2 linked regions of the Homo sapiens genome follow. The protein of the gene in region 1 purifies or fractionates together with the protein of each later gene. This does not show direct contact. Each region holds a gene or a part of one and is shown on either strand. Other genes may lie near its edges.

Region 1 (10,317 bases):
AAAAAAAAAAATCAGCCCAGCATGGTGGCAAGCGCCTGTAGTCCCAGCTACTCAGGAGGCTGAGGCAGAGGTTGCAGTGAGCCAAGATCGTGCCACTGCACTCCAGCCTGGGTGACAGAGCAAGATTGTCTCTCACACACACAAAAAAAATCTCAAAATGATTCCATGTAAAGATACAAGCCTCTGACACGTCCTTTGTGTATTTTGGTATAATCATACTTAACTATTTACATATTGAAATGCATATAGTCAATTCTGCTATAATGCTTTCTTGATCATGTGAATTTTAACAGGATTGGTGTATTACTGAACAATTTGAGCATAATGAAAATGTCACATTTGCTTATAGTGATTCTGTCCCAACACTAAGTGAACGCAGAAAATTGTACCCAACTGAGTCATGCAGGAATTCACAAAATACACACACACACTTCAGGTGGTCAATGAACCACATACATTCACATATATGTTACTAATTTTCCACTCCATCTTATAACTTTTTTTCCTTCTACTACTTCACAGTAATTCAGAAACTATAACTCCATCCAATGCTCACTGCATTGTTTGCTCAAACTTTTTCAAGGCAAAATGTCATTATTATAGTATTTAACATGTACAAAACAGTTCTTTTTAAGCTCCTATCTTTTTAAAAAATGTATAATGATGACTGCTCTTTCTCTTGGGAGTTTTTTTCATGGGCCTCATAATTTTTGGTTAAAAGCTGGACATGTTGTGTAGGAGTAGAGATTGAGGTAATTTTTATGACTGGAAATGAGCACGCCTGTTCTTTGTGAGGCCTTTGGTGAAGGGTTTGTGTTAATCTGGTTAGGAGTTGGACTTAGTTTATGATTTGTTTTTGCCATAGTTATCCTCAGTGTATTACAGCCTTCATGAATCTGCAGAACAGTTTGTCTCTCTGGTGGGCGATGGTTTACTAGAGCAATGCCTGTTTGATTCTTTGTGTTGTGCCTCTTTGCATAATCTTGTTCCTTTCCTAGTAGTATTTTGTGGGTTACTTGTTACTGAAAGCTTCTTAGCTTGGTGGCAGGGGGTTGGGGGTGGGGGATACAGTCTGATGTTCTGATTAAGTCTAAGTCAAACACTGTGTTCCTGAATCTCAGGAGGGCAGCACTCTCGGTTCTGTTGACCACTCCCGACTGCAGTTTTGGGCTCAGGGCCCCTCCTCCAGGCATAAGATTCTCTCCCACTTCTCATCTACCCCCTGAATGTTCACCAATGGGGCCAACAGAGATACCCTTCTCCCCAGAGATTAAAGCTTTTTTCCATAGAAGAGGCAGAGGGGAAGAATCACAGCAGTTTCTTGACCCTCTTAAAAGTTCTGTTGCTGTTCCTCTCCCTCTCAATCTGCACAGCAGACTCACCCAGGGTTCTTTCCAGTCTTTTCTAGTAGACCCAGGGAGGTTTGTGGATAAGAGTTTGCAAGATTGTGCATTCAGCTTTCATCATGCTTTTTGTCCAGTTGTGTCTGAAGACGGTAAACAGAAATTGACATCTACTCTCTGTAAGCACTGTCTCTCAAATTTTCAGCCAGTGGTTTTGCTCTGTGGACTCAGCTCTTTAATAGATTTCAAAAAAGTCATGAATTTGTAGTGTAGGTCTTTTTTTGTTGCAGAAGTGAGAGCAAAGCTTCTTTTTTTGTCTCAGGGCCAAAGCCAGAGGTAGTTACATTATTTATAAACTAAAGATAGCAAAGAAGGTGTTACTAATTATTTTTTATAAAAAGGGAGCCTTTATTGGGTCTAATAAAGTTGAGAAACACTGACTCAAGGAACTCTTTCAAAATATTAATAACTCCCCTTTAACTACTGCCATGTTTTACAGTGAACATTTAGGCCAAAACCTATTTGTAGCAACCAAATTTGTGCTGCAGTTTATCTGCACAGCCTTGTTTCAATTACTAATTTAAAGTACCTCAATCAGAAGCAGGGGAAAGGTATGTGTAGCAGAAACCTCATATTCACCTGTGTAAACAGAACTGGTTGAGGAATGAAGCCAAATTAGTTAAAACACATCTTTTCAATTTCAACCCTAATTTGGGACCTATTGAGAACCGGACTCCACTATCAACCTTTTAACAAATTTAATAAAGCCAGTATTGTTACAGTCCACCTGGGCAAGGCAACCATCTTCTATTTATTTGTGGATAAAGTTAAATTATTCCAAACAATTCATTCACTTATTAATATTTTATTTTTTAGCTTAAGTATTTTGTTTACAACTAAGCTTGTTAACAATATATAACATTAATATATTTTAGACTATTTATTACTACCACTTTAGAAAAAGAGGAATATTCATTGCCTCTCAGTGGAATACAAATGCTGATATTTTCCATGAACTGAACTCTAGCCTTAAGGTTCTTTACATTCTTATTTCTTAATAATCCTCTGACTCCTCTTTTCCTCCCTTAATATGTTCTACTTCCTGTTTTCAAACAAGGAGTATAATGTAATAATTTCTACACAAGGACGTGTGTTGCCTGAATGCATTGTGATACTAACAGCACAAGCCAAGTCTGAGATATAGTAGCTTAAAAAGCGTTTCACATTACACAAAATGTGAACAAGGTTTTACGTTATATGATAGATAAGCCAATAAAGTACTTTCCAAAAATCAAAGAACTGTGTTCTGGATACCGAATTTCTGACAAGTGGTTTCTATAAATTTATTTTTTTAAGGCAAATTCTGTTTCATACTCCCATAAACTCAAAGTACTGGTAATATATTATAAAACCTTATCACTGTAATTTTCCCTGCAGGCAGTAGTTTCAAACCTAGAAACCTATCAAGTCCATAAACTGAGAAAGAAAATATAGTAAGAAAGAATTACTGGGGGCAGGTTCTGAACTTCTACTTTTTTCCCCAAGACACTGTATTACAAAAGGCTCAACATAACTGTACACTATAAAGCCCTTCATAGAGGACGCAACAGCATCAGGTACAGAACCTCCTTTTTGAGGGAAATCAGAATAACGTAAAAGGGAAAAGCAGAGGGAAAATGAGAAATAATTACTTTGGGAGACCACCGCCACATTAGGGTGAAATCTTTACTTTTTTCCCCCCTCTAAGCAACGGACACAGGAAACAATCTTAAGACAAACGTGGTTAACGGAACACGCTACAAAAGGAGAAAATTTAAGGGAAGGCACTCTTAAACATAGTTAAGTATCAAGTGATTAACAGCCACTTCACTGAGCGTCTAAGTCCTACTTTACCCACTCCAAAGGCCACATTCAAAGATAAAATCACAGCAGCGGAGGAAAGGCCACGTGAATAAGCTGCCTTGCAGGAAGGAAAAGCCTTAGGGGAGAAAATGATTTTAGAAAAAGTACTGGAGAACAGACGACGCGGATGCTCATTTCCTAACAAAACGAAACAAAGCAAAGAAAGTCAGTCTGCAGGACTTGTTCGGAAGGAGGGTCGCTGACCCAAGGAAACAAGAGTTGCCGGCATCCAGCAGGAAGGGTGCTCAGACTAGGAGACTGGAAGGGAATCCCGAGGGCGGAACCCACAAGGGAATGAAGAGCCTGTGGGGTAAGGATATGTTAAGGCGAGTGGAGGAGCGTACTAGGTATAAAACAAGCAAAAAAAAGGGGTGGGGCTGGACAGGGCAGCGCCCTGAGCTAATGTCACTCAAAGCCGGGGGGGCGTCCAACGAAAGGAACCAGACCAGCAGCCTGGGGGAAGGGTAATCTGCTTCCTTAGCAGCTGCAGGCTGCAGCAGCCAAGACCACCCCGTTTTCCCTGCCCTGAGCCCCACAAAGTCCCCACGGCGTGGGAAGGGAGTAAGGCAGAGCCCCAGAGCCCAGTGCCCGGAGTCGGCTTTACCTTCGCGGGAGGCTGGAGAGGCTCCAGCCCTAGCTCCTCCCGCCGCCGGCTCAGCTTCCAGAGTGGGATGAGGCGCCCTCCGGCCTCCTCACCCTCACCACTTCCCCTTTCCCCCGCCGGGGCCCTGCAGCTCCGCTGCCGCGGGTTCCTGGTGCCGCCGCGGCGCTGCCTCCCCGCCCCCTCCGCCTCCTCCCTCTGCCTCTCAGAGTTTCACTCTGGAGGCCGCCATCTTCGCTCAGGCTTTGAGCGAGCGCGCTCTAATACGCCTGCGTCGCCACCGCCCAGGCTGTCACGAGACCCAGTCAGCTGATTTCAACTCTTCCGTCTTCTGCCCCGCCCTCCCCGTCCTCCCCGTCCCGATCGTTCTTTCCCTGAAATTCTGCTTTCCTCCGGCCAGCCCCCAGCAGCTACACATGCGCAGAGTAACGACACCGGCCGTGGGATTTGGATTCCACGCAGCGCGTCAGGGGGCTGGCGCCTCGGTGGGTGCTGAAAAGGACACGCCCCTGGGCGCGCGCGGGTGCCCATGACCACGCCCCTCCGGCGGGTGCCCATGACCACGCCCCTCCGGCGTGTGCCTTAGGGCCGCGCCCCTCCGCTTATGTCCTGCGGAGAGTAGGGTCGCAACCCGGTACTTAAGCTTTAAGTCCGAGGAAATCTTGTTTTAAATCACCTCTTTTTAGCTCTTGCCGTCAAGTGCCATGGAGCATCTGCGAGGCAGTCTGAAGCCTCAGCCTATCTCCTGGTTTGGCTGGATTGGGAGCCAGCAGGTTCATTTACTATTGAGACGTCCTGAACGACAGCAGAGCAGGGTTTAAGTTATGGATGCTCTGGAAGGTCTCAGAGACCAAATTCTCAGAGACGCCTAAGGCATTTGCAGGTGGGAATGCTGGAAAGATAGTTCTGGTAGCCCCATTTATTGTGTCCGGATCAAGTGTTTAGAAGTTTACTTAAAGCTGCTTAATCTTCAACTCTCTGAGATACGAATCATCCTCGTTTTGCAGATAAGTTGAGGCCCAGCCTCAGAGTAGTGGATTTCATGTTTGCACCCAAGTAATTTGAACCCAGAACCTGTGCCCTCTAGATAACCATCTTCCTGAACCTCACCTGAGAGGGAAGTCAGGGCAGTGAAAAGAGGGGATATTGGGACTAAAGGATTCGGCTAGAAATTATGTGTTATCTGTGGGCAATGGTTTAAATAAGAAAGGTCAATGTCCACTCCCAGATCTGAGCCGTAAAGACCACAGTTTAAAAATTAGTGATTAAAAAAAAAATAGTGATTCTGCTGCAGACTTCAGAGTAGAGGCAGTGTAGGGTGACCTGCATGGATACATTATTGTATAAGGGTTAAAGGTCTCTGATAAGGAGTTGAATACTCATTCTTCATGGCAGTCCTGAAATTGTGATTTCTTGGCGTCCCCTTCAGCAAGTTGGCTCATTTTATAGACAGCGATTGCAGGATGAAAAAATGTGGAAAAATGGTTTTTACAGACTTTACCTCTTGATTCTATTAACCCTTTGCCCTACCTTAGGGCGGAAAAAGACTATTTGTGTTTATCCTTAGACTTTTCTGTAATGCAGCAGTAAGATAAGGTGCATGTAAGGGAAGGTACTAGGAATAGCTGGGTGTGGGAAGACAGAACCCGAAATAGAGTAGGAAGGGAGGAGGAGGAAAAAGAAACAGGAGGGCTGTGTTAAGGGGCCTTATTGGCTTATCCCATGGAAACAGAAACGTGTTTATGTGGTTACAAAGCCTTCCAGTAATCCCAAAAGTAAATGTGGGGTATATTATTTCGATTTTAGAGAAGCAGCAGACCCAGAGAGTCCAGGAGACTTGCTAAAGGTGACCTAACTCCTAAAGGTTGAGCCAAGATTAAGACACAGGGCCTGCCTGTAACATCAAGGCCAGTGAACTGTTCAACCTCCACACTGCCTCTCTGTTCAATATTTGAGACCAATAAAATCAATTCTCGTGTTGAGAGGAGCCTTAGGCATCATGAATTGTCCCCATCCTCTGTAGTGCAAAATTGCCTCACAAGACATCTTTTTCCATTGCATTTTTATAAGCCATTTTCCTTGTATTCAGCCAACTTGCACTCTCTTCTATGAGTAGTTATTTTGTCTTTGTTTCTTGCTCTTTTCTTCTTGTATGTGACATTCATTTAAGCACTTATCAGTACAGCTTATCACCCTTTCCCACTCCCTCTCCCGTGCATATCCTTCTAACTACCCCTGCTACAGATACTCATTTTAAGAAACCATATTCAAAGTACTTTCAACCATTGTTCACAAGATGTAGTTTCAAGCCTTTTCACAACCACTGGTTGCTTTTAATTGGATCCATACAATTGGATCCTTCTTAAAATGCCACAACAAAATACAAGAGTCAGGGAGAGTAGGACTTGTCTCTTCTTTCCCTATTAGGTTAAATCAGTTGGATCCTTTCCCCACCCAACTCTTTTTTAAGAGTGACAAATGCACACTTCTTTTTCTGGATTTGTCTTTTTATTCATAATTAAAGTTTGCACTAGCGTTTCTGACACTTTCATAGTGCAGATGTATCAAATTTACAATCTAAATTATGTGATGTACACTTAAAATATTTCACAGCTTTTTAAAAAATACATTTCACAGCCTTTTAGGCACCAATAGCCTTTATCAGTCTCCAAAGTTAGCATACAAGGCTGGAGTGATCTAAGACTTTAGAGAGCCCACAAGAATGTCAAACACTTGCTTATCTAATTCCCATTGCTGCTAAATTGACCTTCCTAATTATATCAATGCCCAGATCCAAAGTAAATCCTTAAGAACTCATACCACTCAACAATGCTTGAACTATGTTTTCAGTACAGTAGCCACTAGCCCTATGTGGCTACTGAACACAGAATAAAAATTAAAATTGTTACAAAAAAATGTAAAATGTTGCATTAGCAATTTTTATATTGATTACACGTGTTAAAAGAAAAAAATATTTAGGCCGGGCACGGTGGCTCACGCCTGTAGTCCCAGCACTTTGGGAGGCTGAGGCGGGTGGATCACCTGAGGTCAGGAGTTTGAGACCAGCTTGGCCAACATGATGAAACCCCGTCTCTACTAAATATAAAAAAATTAGGCGGGCCTGGTGGTGCATACCTGTAATCCCAGCTATTCGGGATGCTGAGGCAGGAGAATCACTTGAACCTGGGAGGGGGAGGTTGCAGTGAGCCGAGATGGTGCCACTGCACTCCAGCCTGGGCAACAAGAGTGAAACTCTCAAAAAAAAAAAAAGTATTATTTAATGATACTTGTTAAAGCTTGGTAATAGGCTGAGCATGATGGCTGACACCTGTAATCCCAAGGCTTTGGGAGGCCAAGTCAGGAGGATCACTTGAGGCCAGGAGTTTGAGACCAGCCTATGCAATGTAGTGGGACCCCATTGCTACAAAATAATAAAAATAAAAGCATTATCTGGGCATGGGGGCATGCCCCTGTAGTGCTAGTTACTCAGGAGGCTGAGGTGAGAGGATCTCTTGAGCCCAGGAGTTCGAGGTTACAGTGAGCTATAATTGTGCCACTGCACTCCTGCCTGGGCAGCAGAGAAAGACCCTGTACCCCCTGCTCCCCACAAAAAAGATTTTATTCAGTTTATTTACGATCATTACAATAGGTACAGGAGCCACTGCAACAGGGGCTTGCAGTAAGGGAGAGAGACGGGGCTCAGGTCGGAAAACGACACGGGCAAGTATGCATTTATCTCCAAGGAACAGTGTGTGGGGGTCAGTGGATGGAAAATTACTAAGAGAAAACATCAGGGGTGAGCGGGGATCCTGGCTAAACCTACGTAACAGGATTCTTGCTAAAGACAGGCCAGAGTGATTAGACATCTTCTGGGGGAAGGTGAAAGATGAGGAATCTGATCACATATCGAGGGAATTTTGGCTAAACTGACTTAGCCAGGTTCTTTTGCAGACTAGACTTTTCAAGGAAGCACACAGAGGGGCCTAAGGAAAGGTTCAGAAGCCTGATTAAAATTTGGCTGAGCAAAGACTCTTTGTCACATGTGGAAATGATAATATTATGGCTGTATATTTGGTTAAATAAAATGTTATTAAAATTAATTTCACTTGTTTCTTTTAAGGAATGTAGCTACTAGTAAATGTAAAATTAAATATATGGCTCCCATTGTATTTCTCTTGGACAATACTGCTATTAGAAAATCTTGTGCAAGCAAACAGTAAGTGTCAGAAAACAACTACGTCGAGTTGGTGAGCTTGAAGCTTCCACAGAATCTTCTACTGGACTTCATTTTAATTTGTTATGTGATTGGTTGGTTGTTTGTCTTTAGTGGTTTTTCTCAAGATTTATCTGGCCACACGTATTTAGTTTTCTGTGTTTCTCTATACTGTAATTCAAATAATTGAAATTATTTACAACATATGACAAATTATGACATGAGAATTTCTTGACATATATACATATGTATCTGTATATATATATAGGATCCACAATTTTTTTTTTTTGTAACTGATAGCCTGGCTTCCCCAGCTCACTTAATCCTACCCCAGGAAGTCTAGTTTTATTATTAATGTGAATTAAAATATCTTTTTAAATAGTATAATGATGTTCATATATAAAGGATTTTGAATTTATAATATTTTATTAACAAAAACATGCTTTCATTTAATTACAGGAAATTATCTAGATTTGATTATATTTTCAAAGATGGATGAGGAGGGAAAAGAAAATAACTTATTCTGTGGTCTAACAATTTTAAACTATTATTGAAATTTTAACTGGTTAAGAAAAAGGCCTGTGTTCTTTTTCCTTATTAAATTTTACCACAACTGCTCTTTTACAATATATACACTGCTGAGGGTTTTCTAATTCAGGTGTTCTTACTAATTAATTCAAATACTTCTTGTATTATCAGATTTGAGAAAACTCAAGAACCTTATGTGGTTTTTTCCATAAAGGGTTTTGAAGTGAACAAGATTTCCAATCTGCTATGAAATTATTATATTCAGACATTTTTAGTCATCAGCACTTGAAGGAAATATAATGTAGTTTAAAAAACTCACAGGCAAGTTCGTTATCCTCTTTGAGTCTTAGTTCCCTCTTCTGTAAACTTCAGATATTGATACCTACCTTGAGAGACATTTGCAGGAGTTACATAACTTATGTAGAGCACTTCATTACTGAGCACACACTATAGTTAATATCAGGGTCTCCAGCTTGTTTATGTAATCCTTGTCTTTGAGTTTTTAAATGAAACAGGTTTGCTGTAGTTCTTATCATCAGAGGACTAACCAGATGAAGATAATACAGATAATAACTTATATAGAGCAGTTCATTACTGAGCACACACTATAGTTAATATCAGGGTCTCCAGCTTCTTTATGTAATCCTTGTCCTTGCGTTTTTAAATGAAACAGGTTTGCTGTAGTTATCATCAGAGGACTAACCAGATGCTAATAATACAGAATGTCAGATAAGCAGATATTCTGTATTATTAGCAGAATGGGGAAAGTTCAAGTGTTCATTCTTGACAACCATATTTGAATACTCCTATCATGAGACATCATTAAATAGTTCATTTTATTTATTATGGAGAACACAGAGTTGACTTGTTCAATTCATCTGTGAATGTTAACAATGCAAAAAAGTCTTACATGCATGGAATTTCGACAGTCACAATATATTTTAAAAATGGTGATCCAAAACTTGACCATGAGGAAGTTCTTAGAATGACAATGACTCATTCACGCCTAAATCAAGGTGAGTTAATCAGGTGCAACAAAAGCTTTTTTTTCCCACTAATTTTGTTAAAGATCATTGCAACCACATAGAAGGAAAGGATATCTATTCATTAATCTTGGATAATAACTTATTCATATTATGCCTATCTGAGAACATAAAACTTCATTACCCAAATTATTGCTGGCTTTGAGCATATAAAGATGATATGACTGTTATTTCCATGTAAAACTTAATTTTGTCAATGAAAAGATGATTTTTTTTTCTTTTTGTGAGCAACAGTAAATGAGGTGGCAGCCACCTACTTAGCGTAAAGGAAAATAAAACATAAAAGAAGTAGTATTTCAAGCTCAACTAATTAGCTTGTAAAGTTATTGGTTCTCAAATCTATACAGTGAAGTCTGAGAAAAAAAAAAGTAAATCAATGTAAACCAAAATAAAAAGCACATACTAACAAAGCCAATTTGAAAAAAATCTTACTAATATAGAAGAAACTCACATATACTAGTCACTGCAAATGTTAAAGTTACTTTGGGTCTATTCCTAATCTGCCTGTCAGACAAACTTTGAGAGTTGAAGGATTATACATCATACTACTATAGAGACACATGCTCACATATGTTTATTGCAGCACTATTTACAATAGGAAAGACCTGGAACCAACCCAAATGCCCATCAATGATAGACTGGATAAAGAAAATGTGGCACATATATACCATGGAATACTATGCAGCC
Region 2 (9,444 bases), about 19 Mb from region 1:
ACTTTCTCTTTAAATTTGAAGTCTCTTAACTTTATTAAGATATATTCCAATATTGATAGTTTCATTAAATTTTTCTGGATACATAATGTGCCCTTTTCATCTATGAAATATGTCTTTTATTTTGGAAAAATTTAGAAAATTGCATCTGAAACTTTTTCATTATGGCTGTCTTCTTCAAATATACCAACTAGACATGTTAGGTTTTTGTTATCTATTTTCCATGTGCATCATTTCCTCTCTACTCCTTTTTATTTAGCCTTGTGTCTGTTCACAGGATAAATGGTATTTATTCTTTGTGTTGCTTCTAATGAAACCTTCACTTCTATTTCTTTTTGTTCTTTCAGCTCATCAAGTATCTCTTCTTATCTTACTCCATATGCCTTGAGATTTTATTTTGTAGTAGGCTGCATTATTAGGGTTTTTTTTTTTTTTTAACTGTGGTCACAGTTTTCATTTATTCTTTGACAAGTTATTTGACCATCATTGTATTCTTCTCTTCTGTCTTTTTCCTTATTTTATTTTTGTTTAGATATCCTGTACTGATATTTATTATTACTATTACTCATCTTTGTAGGAGATGAGAGGGCTGGCTGTGACTGTGTACCAGGGTAGCAGGAATTCTTCATGGTAACTTGTGAAGTTTATTATGGCATGCAGCTGTGTAAAAAAGCTATTTTACTCTTCTTGCCTGATACCAGAAATCAGCAGCTGTAAGACCATTCACAGTGAATTCTCCTCTGTCTCACCCACTTTTCATTTAGTGAAAATAGGGAGTACCTACTTGTGTTTTATTCATCCCTATCTTCCTGCTTCTCTTTGATGCCAAACTGAGTACAAGGAACTCCTTCCTGCGACTGGCCATGTAGCTTTTTGCAGTGTTCCAAACAAAGCACTCTTGCTTTGTTTGGAAACAAACAAGGCACTTGAAGATGTGCCTTCAAGTTTGCAGAAGCTTTATCTGAGATGCATGGCCTCAGATGAATTCTTGGCATTTTTCCATACCCTTATTTGGTTTTCACCTTATTTAGGTGACTTTTTAAATTATATTGTTGTGGGACTATGTCTCCTAGTTTTTAATGACTAAATTTGTATTTCTGTATTTCTTGTTCTCCTTGTTTGGAGGTAAGTTTTATGAGGAAGAGACAGTGACATATTCATCTACCATTTTAAGAAAGCTACCTTATTCTTTTAAATGGCTGCACAGTATCCCTTTGTATGGATATATCATAATCAATTTAACTGGCATCTTTTTGGTGGACTATTGGATTCTTTATCGTCGTTTACGATAGGCAGCACTAAAACATCCTTAAACATATATTTTTACACTATTCTTTGTATGTTTTGCATGCATGTTTCTTTGCATGTTTTTTTTTTCCTTAGAGACAGGGTCTTGCTCTATCACCCAGGCTGAAGTGCAGTGGCATGTTCATGGCTCACTGCAGCTTTGACCTCCTGGTCTCAAGGGATCCTCTCATCTCAGCCTCCCAAGTAGCTGAGGCTACAGACATGAGCCACCATGCCTGGCTAATTTTTTTATTTTCTGTAGAGATGGGGGTCTCACTATGTTGCCCAGGATGGGCAACTTCTAGCCTCAAGAGATCCTCCTGCCTTGGCCTCCCAAAGTCCTGGGATTATAGGCATGAACCACCATGCTTGGCCTCTTTGTACATTTCTTAGGGTAATTTCTTAGAAGCAAAATTCCTGCCAATACAGCTGCTAATTATTATTTTACATTCTGATAGCCCTTCAAAAGGGCTAACTGTGGACAAGAGTTTCTGCTTCTCAACATCTTCACCAATGCTAGTTTTTTCAACACGTTCTTATGATAATTATCAAAGATACGGAAAAGTTGAAAGAATGTTACAGTGAATACCATGTACCCAGCACTTAGATTTGACAATTGAAATTTTAACTATTCTTGCTTTATTAGATACCTGTTCAATCTGTATTTAACAATGAACTAGCATCTTTCTTGTGTGTATGAACCATTTAAAAACTGCCTTGTGTTCATTTTCCTTTTGGATGATAGTTGTTTTTCATACTGATTTCTAGAAACTCTTTTTGGTTTTTTGTTGTTTTTTTTTGTTTGTTTGTTGGTTTTGAGACAAAGTCTCACTCAGTCACCCAGGCTGGAATGCAGTGGTGCGATCTTGGCTCACTGCAGCCTCTGCCTCCTGGATTCAAGCAGTTCTACAACCTCAGCCTCCCGAGTAGCTGGGATTACAGGCATGCACCACCACCACACCTGGCTAATTTTTGTATTTTTAGTAGAGATGGGGTTTCACCATGTTGGCCAGGCTGGTCTCGAACTCCTGACCTCGGGGGATCTGCCCACCTTGGCCTCCCAAAGTGCTGGGATTACAGGCTTGAGCCACCGCGCCTGGCCAGAAACTCTTTGATTAATGAATAAATTCGTCCTTTATCTGTCATGAGTTGCAAATATGTCCCAGCTTGTTTATCTCTTGATTTTGTCTGAGGCATATTTTTCTTGTAGGCACTGATACCTGTAGGTCTGTCAGAGAATTCTCACTTACTCATATGTATCTGTCTTTTCTGCCATTTCTTTCTAATATCACAAGTATCTGTGACATTTCATCACAGATTTAAAACACAGCATGCTTGTATAAGAAAGAATCTGTTCTTATTAGATTGGAATATGTGGTAATTATTGTGTTGTTGAAGCCTTAATATTGATAAGTAATGTTTCCTAAAGACTTTCTTCATGAGACCATTTTATGGATGCCTGAACAGTCAGTATTTTTTATTCTGAAAGATGCAATATGATAAATAGGAAAGTACTGAATTTTCCACTAATTATGTTAATTTTACTTATATAAACCTCTGTTTCTTTACCAGTAAAATAAAAAAACCAAGGCATTATAAAAGTTCCAAAATCTTTTGGAACTTTTATAATATAACTATATATTTTTCCTAATATCTTAGTGTTTCATAGCGCTTTGTACTTTTTAGATGACATTTATTTAATTCACTTCATCTGCCATATATACAAGTATATAGGGCAGGCGTTATTCCATTTTTAATAGGTTAGGAAGCCACACTGGGAAATCAAGTTATTTTGCTAAGGTTAATGACAGAATAGGAACTAGAACCCAACACTCGTTTCTGTATATTAGCTGCTTATAAGTGGTTTACTGTCTAAATTTACAGGATAGGACCTGATCTGCATAGCAGAATAATCTGGACAATTAAGATATTACTCATTTTAATAACATTTGCTACTTTTGAAAAGTAACCACCCAAGCTGATTGGTTAAGGGTTACTTTTGCATGCATACATGTTTGTGTGTGTGTATGTGATATATAGAGAGAAGCTACATTTGAAAATTAATTTCAGACTTAATTATTTCAACAAAGAATAGAGAAAGTCATTTCCTGCTTTCTAAAATGTGCATTATATTAGGGCCAGCTAGGCTATGGCATCAAATAATTCCAAATATATATTTGCTCAATATAATAGATGTTTATTTCAAGTGTTCAGGGCACTCTTTACTCTGTCATTCTGAGCCATGATCCAGCCTGAAATGAGCTCTACCATTTTCAACACATGGCTTCCAAGACTACTGGGAGTTCTTTCCATTTCAGTAGGCCAGAAGGAAGAAAGAGTATGGAAGAGCGTGTGACTTGCCTGACCGTAGAACACATTATTTTGACTTGAGTTTTGTTAGCCAGAGATCAGTTACATGGCCATATCTAAGTGCACAGGATGCTAGGAAACAATTCAGTGTGTGCCCAGAAAAAGAGGAAGAGCAGCTTTGAGGGAGCCACTAGCAGTCTACGTTGTGTACTTATTGCTTTAAGGTTTTCTTAAGGGTGGAAAAAAACAGGATTTTTATATGCTAGCATTGTAACTTATAATAATATTCTTCCCAATTTAGGAATCACACTGTCAGAGTACTTCCGTGACATGGGCTATCATGTCAGTATGATGGCTGACTCTACCTCTAGATGGGCTGAGGCCCTTAGAGAAATCTCTGGTCGTTTAGCTGAAATGCCTGCAGGTAAGTCTGTGTATTGCTTATCATGTAAACAAGACTGATGGGATTTTCGGGGCTGGCTTAGAAACTCTGTTTTAAAATTTCTTTTCATTTTTCAGATAGTGGATATCCAGCCTATCTTGGTGCCCGTCTGGCCTCGTTTTATGAACGAGCAGGCAGGGTGAAATGTCTTGGAAATCCTGAAAGAGAAGGGAGTGTCAGCATTGTAGGAGCGTAAGCACCCACACTATTTACTTTGCAAAAGGAAAAAAGTCACAGATGTATTAAAGAGAGAAAAAAAGTCACTTATTTTAAAGAGAGAATATTTAGCTCCCGCTGGGAGCAGCGGTTCTTAAGGAGGGTTGCACTCCAGAGTCACCTAAGGAGCTCTTTGAAGATGCACATGTTTAGGCAATTTCTACATGTCCTGGTTCCATAGGTTTGACTTTAATTTATATATTTATATGTTTAATTTAGATATTTATTTAATTTTTATAATTTAGAAAATTATAGACATAATAAGGTGAGATTGCATCACGGTAAAAAGAAAGTGAAGATTCGTGATCACTACATAAAGCCATACTTTTTTCTTAGAGCGTTTCCTCCTTGCTTCATCTATTTGATTAGAATAATAAAATTGATTATAATAAAATATCTATCTCATGTCTCATAATAGAAGGTGTTCTGTAGTTTCTATTGTTGTTTACAACTTAAATACTGGCTTTTGTTTAAGATTTTTAGGTAAGATTTTCTTTCCAAAGGTCATTTCTAAAGTTATTTACATTAAAAAGTTATTTACATTAAAATCGACTTTAAAAAAAGTTAACATTTATATATATGTTATTTTTCATAAGCATTTCTAATGACCATTTTTTTTGTAATGACCATATTTTTTTTAAATTTAGAGTTTCTCCACCTGGTGGTGATTTTTCTGATCCAGTTACATCTGCCACTCTTGGTATCGTTCAGGTATGTCTTTCCCTAGTATAGTCAACTTCTGAGCCTTTCCTCCTCTCTGCAGCCCCTGCTGTTCTAATGCGATCTAATGTAATCGTTGTGAAGTATTTAATTTAGTCTCTAAAGGATAGGCAATGGTAAAGTCTGGTTTAGAAACACTCTTAACACAGAGCCTTTAATACTGTCTGTTTTTTTCTTAGCTGTTTACATAGGATTTATAATAAACTTAATAATATATAAGTGGAAAATATAGGTAGCAAAAATTTTATTAGTATTAGAGTAGTATTATCCTTTAAGTCATAGTAACCCTAGTTATAGAAACAAAGAGGCCCAAAAATGTGTAATACCCAGAAGTTATTTCACTTCACAGTATGATCCAAGGCTCTCTTCTGTTTAGTGATAATTCTGAGTCCAGGATTCTTTCCATCTTGTGACTCCACTGTCACCTAGCCTGGTGATCATCTGCATCTAGCTGACACAAGGGAGCTGGGCCTTGTGGAGAAGGCATACCCACCTTTTTTGAACCTTGGATTCAAAAGTGACACAGTCACTCCACTCATTCTATTAGCCACATCCAGGTGAAAGCAAGGCTGGAAAATGCAGTTTCTGCCTAAGCATTTGCTTTCCAGTGACAAGACATGAATTTTAGTGGATAGGTAGCCAGCTTGGCTATTAAAAGAAGCCCAAATAAAAGATGTGTACAAATCAGAGCTATAGTTAAAAAAAAAAAGTGATATGTGTATATTATTCATGTGGGAAAAACAGAATATTTACTTGTGTTTCTGACAGTATCAGAGAAAAGGAAATGTCAGAGGCTAAATGTACAACTCTCAAGCTTTTTAACGTTTGCTAAAATTTTGAGTTTTAAATTATGGGGAAAGAGGGAACAGAGTTAGAAATGCATGGAATATCTGTGAATGTTTGCCCTTACAAAAATCACTGTCAGTTGTTGTTGGATTGGCCCTGTGAATGATAGGCAACTAAATTTAATCAAAACACTTAGATGTTTTTGTTTTGTTTGTTTTGATACGGAGTTTCACTCTTGTTGCCCAGGCTGGAGTGCAATGGCACAAACTTAGCTCACTGCAACCTCCACCTCCCGGGTTCAAGTGATTCTCCTGCCTCAGCCTCCCAAGTAGGTGGGATTATAGGCACCCGCCACCACACCTGGCTAATTTTTTGTGTTTTTAATAGAGACAATATTTCACTATGTTGGCCAGGCTGGTCTTGAACTCCTGACCTCAGGTGATCCACCCGCCTCAGCCTCCCAAAGTGCAGGGATTACAAGCGTGAGCCACCATGCCTGGCCCAGAACAGTTAAAAAAAAAATTTTTTTTTTTTTGAGATGGAATCTCACCCCCATCATGCAGGCTGGAGTGCAGTGGCGTGATCTCAGCTCACTGCAACCTTCATCTTCCGGGTTCAAGCAATTCTTCCTCCTCAGCCTCCCAAGTAAGCTGGCATTACAGGCATGCGCCACCACCACGCCCGGATAATTTTTGTATTTTAGTACAGACAGGGTTTTGCCATGTTGGCCAGGCTGGTCTCGAACTCCTGACCTCAGGTGATCCACCTGCCTCAGCCTCCCAGAGTGCTAGGATTACAGGCGTGAGCCACCATGCCTGGCCAGTTAGAGGTTTTTAATCAAAGTAAAGTGTGTATTCGATCTACATAAACCTTTTCTGGTTCTATTGTACCATAATAATTTTCAAAAGAGTAAATTAATTTTTCTTTTTGCTTTTGGATTTGGCACAGTATTAAGAAAATAGAGGTAAATTTTAAATTCGATTTGTAGGTATTATGCACTTGGAAAATGAAAGGAAATAGATTATTGTCATTTTCTGCAAGTTTTATTCTGTTTTAATTTTACTTAGTATATACTAAAACGATGTATAATTTGACCAGTGAATTGTAGAATTGCATATTTAGGGGTCAGGCATGGTGGCTCATGCCTGTAATTCCAGCACTTTGGGAGGCCAGGGATCACATGAGGTCAGGAGTTCGAGACAAGCCTAGCCAACATGGTGAAACCCCATCTCTACTAAAAGTACAAAAATTAGCCGGGCCTGATGGCGCATGCTTGTAATCCCAGCTACTGGTGAGGCTGAGTCAGGAGAATTGTTTGAACCCATGAGGTGGAGGTTGTAGTGAGCCGAGATCATGCCACTGCACTCCAGCCTGGGTGACAGAGCAAGCCTCTGTCTCAAAAACAAAAAAAAAAGAATTGCATAGTTGGGACAAACATGCTTCGGTATTTTTTAACTTTGTTTTTTGAGAAAAATTACTGTTTTTGTGTGTGTGTTTTTTTTAATCAGGTGTTCTGGGGCTTAGATAAGAAACTAGCTCAACGTAAGCATTTCCCCTCTGTCAATTGGCTCATCAGCTACAGCAAGTATATGCGTGCCTTGGATGAATACTATGACAAACACTTCACAGAGTTCGTTCCTCTGAGGACGAAAGCTAAGGAAATTCTGCAGGAAGAAGAAGACCTGGCAGAAATTGTACAGCTTGTGGGAAAGGTGAGTTGTTAAATTCCATGGAAGATAGATCTGTGGGTTACACTGGGGTGTTTCAAGGACAGATAGAGCCTTGGATATTACAGATTCTTGCCTAGCAAAATAAATATTTATTAAATATTTTTAATTGAAATTTTCTATTCATTATAGTACTTAGCATGGTTTTTGGGTATATTGTATGTGAGAAAGAAACATTTGATTTACTTTTATCTTGAAATGGAATATACCCATCACCAACCAAATTAGAGGTAGTAGATTTAGGATTTGTTAGCATACATTTTTGTAGGAATGCTAGGGCTAGGTTTCAGAAGGATTGGCTTCTAGTTCCTCCAATAATTAGCTATTGGCCTTAAACAGGTGAGTTACATTCTTGTGCCTGTATCTTGGATTCTTCAAGGAAAGATGGTGTAATTAAATTTAGGCAAATTAAATGCCAGAATGAAAAGACTTCTCAGATAGTATGCAATGCTAGTTAGTACTCAGAGTTCTTTGTCTGGTTTTGTTCTTTTTATTACATGTTACAAAGTCATCTCCTAATTTATTCCAAAAAAGGTTAATATTAGGAGATAGCTAACATTCTAACATGTATTACTACTTACTATTTATAGAATAAAAATATTCTCTTATCTGCCCAATAAGAGAAGCAAGAAACAGGAAGAACTGCAAAACCAGATAAAGACAATACAAGAAAGGAAAACTATAGGCTAATATTGTTGATGAATGTAGGTATGAATGTAGATACTTAATAAAATATTAAATATTAGTGTATGAGGTCTAGTAGGATATTAAAGAAAATAAAATGATACATCATAAGCAAGTTTATCTCAGGAATGTCCATATTAGACACAGAAAATCTATTGTAATTCACTAATGTAATAATACAATGGAAAAAGGATATCTCAGTTAATGTGGAAAAATATTTGAAGTTTATTACAATTTTTAGAAACATCTTAGCAAACAAGGAATAGAACGGAACTTCCTTAATGTGTTAAAAGTAATATACTAAGACCTAGGGAAACCACTTTACTTACTGGAGAAATTTCAGATGCATTTCATTTAAAAACTAGGATTAAGACCAGCATGCCTAATCTCATCACTGTGTTCTGTCAAATACCAGAGATCATAACCAATGATGTAAGAAGAGAAAAAAGAAAAGTTGCAAAGAAAGAGATAACAGTGTCATTGTTTGTAGATAATATGCTCATATACTAGAAATATAACAGAATTAACAGAGAAACAAATAATAAGAGTTCACTGGGGTGTTATGATTCAAGATAAACACAGATCAAGAGAATGTCTCTACACTAGCAGTACCAACTAGAAAATAAAAGTAAAAATAAGATGTTCTCAATAGCAACAAAAACTAGAGTGTAGGAACTAACCAGAAATATATATTTCTTCTATGAAAACCACTTTTAAACTAATAAATGAAACAGAAGATGATATGAAAATAGAAACAGTCCATGCTCTTGGACGGAATGACTTATTAAAAAGACGCCACTTCTCAGCCAGGCGTGGTGGCTCACACTTGTAATCCCAGCACTTTGGGAGGCAGAGGTGGGCAGATCAACGAGGTCAGGAGTTCAAGACCAGCCTGGCCAGCATGGTGAAACCCTGTCACTACTAAAAATACAAAAAATTAGCTGGGCATGGTGGCGCACCCCTGTAATGCCAGCTACTTGAGAGGCTGAGGCAGGAGAACTGCTTGAACCTGGGAGGCGGAGGTTGCAGTGAGCCGAAATCACGCCACTGCACTCTAGCCTGGGTGACAGAGTGAGACTCCATCTCAAAAAAAAAAAAAAAAGACGCAATTTCTCTTTAATCTGTAAATTCAATGTAACGCCAATCTAAAATTCATTTGATTTCACCAAGATTCACAACCTTAAATAAGAATAGTAAAGTGTGAGCTTCTCCCCTATTGGATAAGGGGGAATACAAAACCATAATAATAAAAACAATGTGGTATTGGTAAAATAA

What was found.
Region 2: the proteins of DNAJC13 (region 1) and ATP6V1A purify together in Homo sapiens (co-immunoprecipitation; 2 studies listed by BioGRID and IntAct, with this or other methods). This does not show direct contact.

Annotation. Positions count from the first base shown.
Region 1 is NC_000003.12:132,411,293-132,421,609, reverse strand, and holds the start of DNAJC13 (dnaJ homolog subfamily C member 13), read right to left. Parts: upstream 4,109-10,317; 5' UTR 3,850-4,108; exon of another isoform or gene 1-3,849.
Region 2 is NC_000003.12:113,790,977-113,800,420, forward strand, and holds part of ATP6V1A (V-type proton ATPase catalytic subunit A), read left to right. Parts: intron 1-3,895; coding exon 3,896-4,018; intron 4,019-4,113; coding exon 4,114-4,228; intron 4,229-4,899; coding exon 4,900-4,963; intron 4,964-7,266; coding exon 7,267-7,470; intron 7,471-9,444. UniProt on the Homo sapiens protein: Catalytic subunit of the V1 complex of vacuolar(H+)-ATPase (V-ATPase), a multisubunit enzyme composed of a peripheral complex (V1) that hydrolyzes ATP and a membrane integral complex (V0) that translocates protons.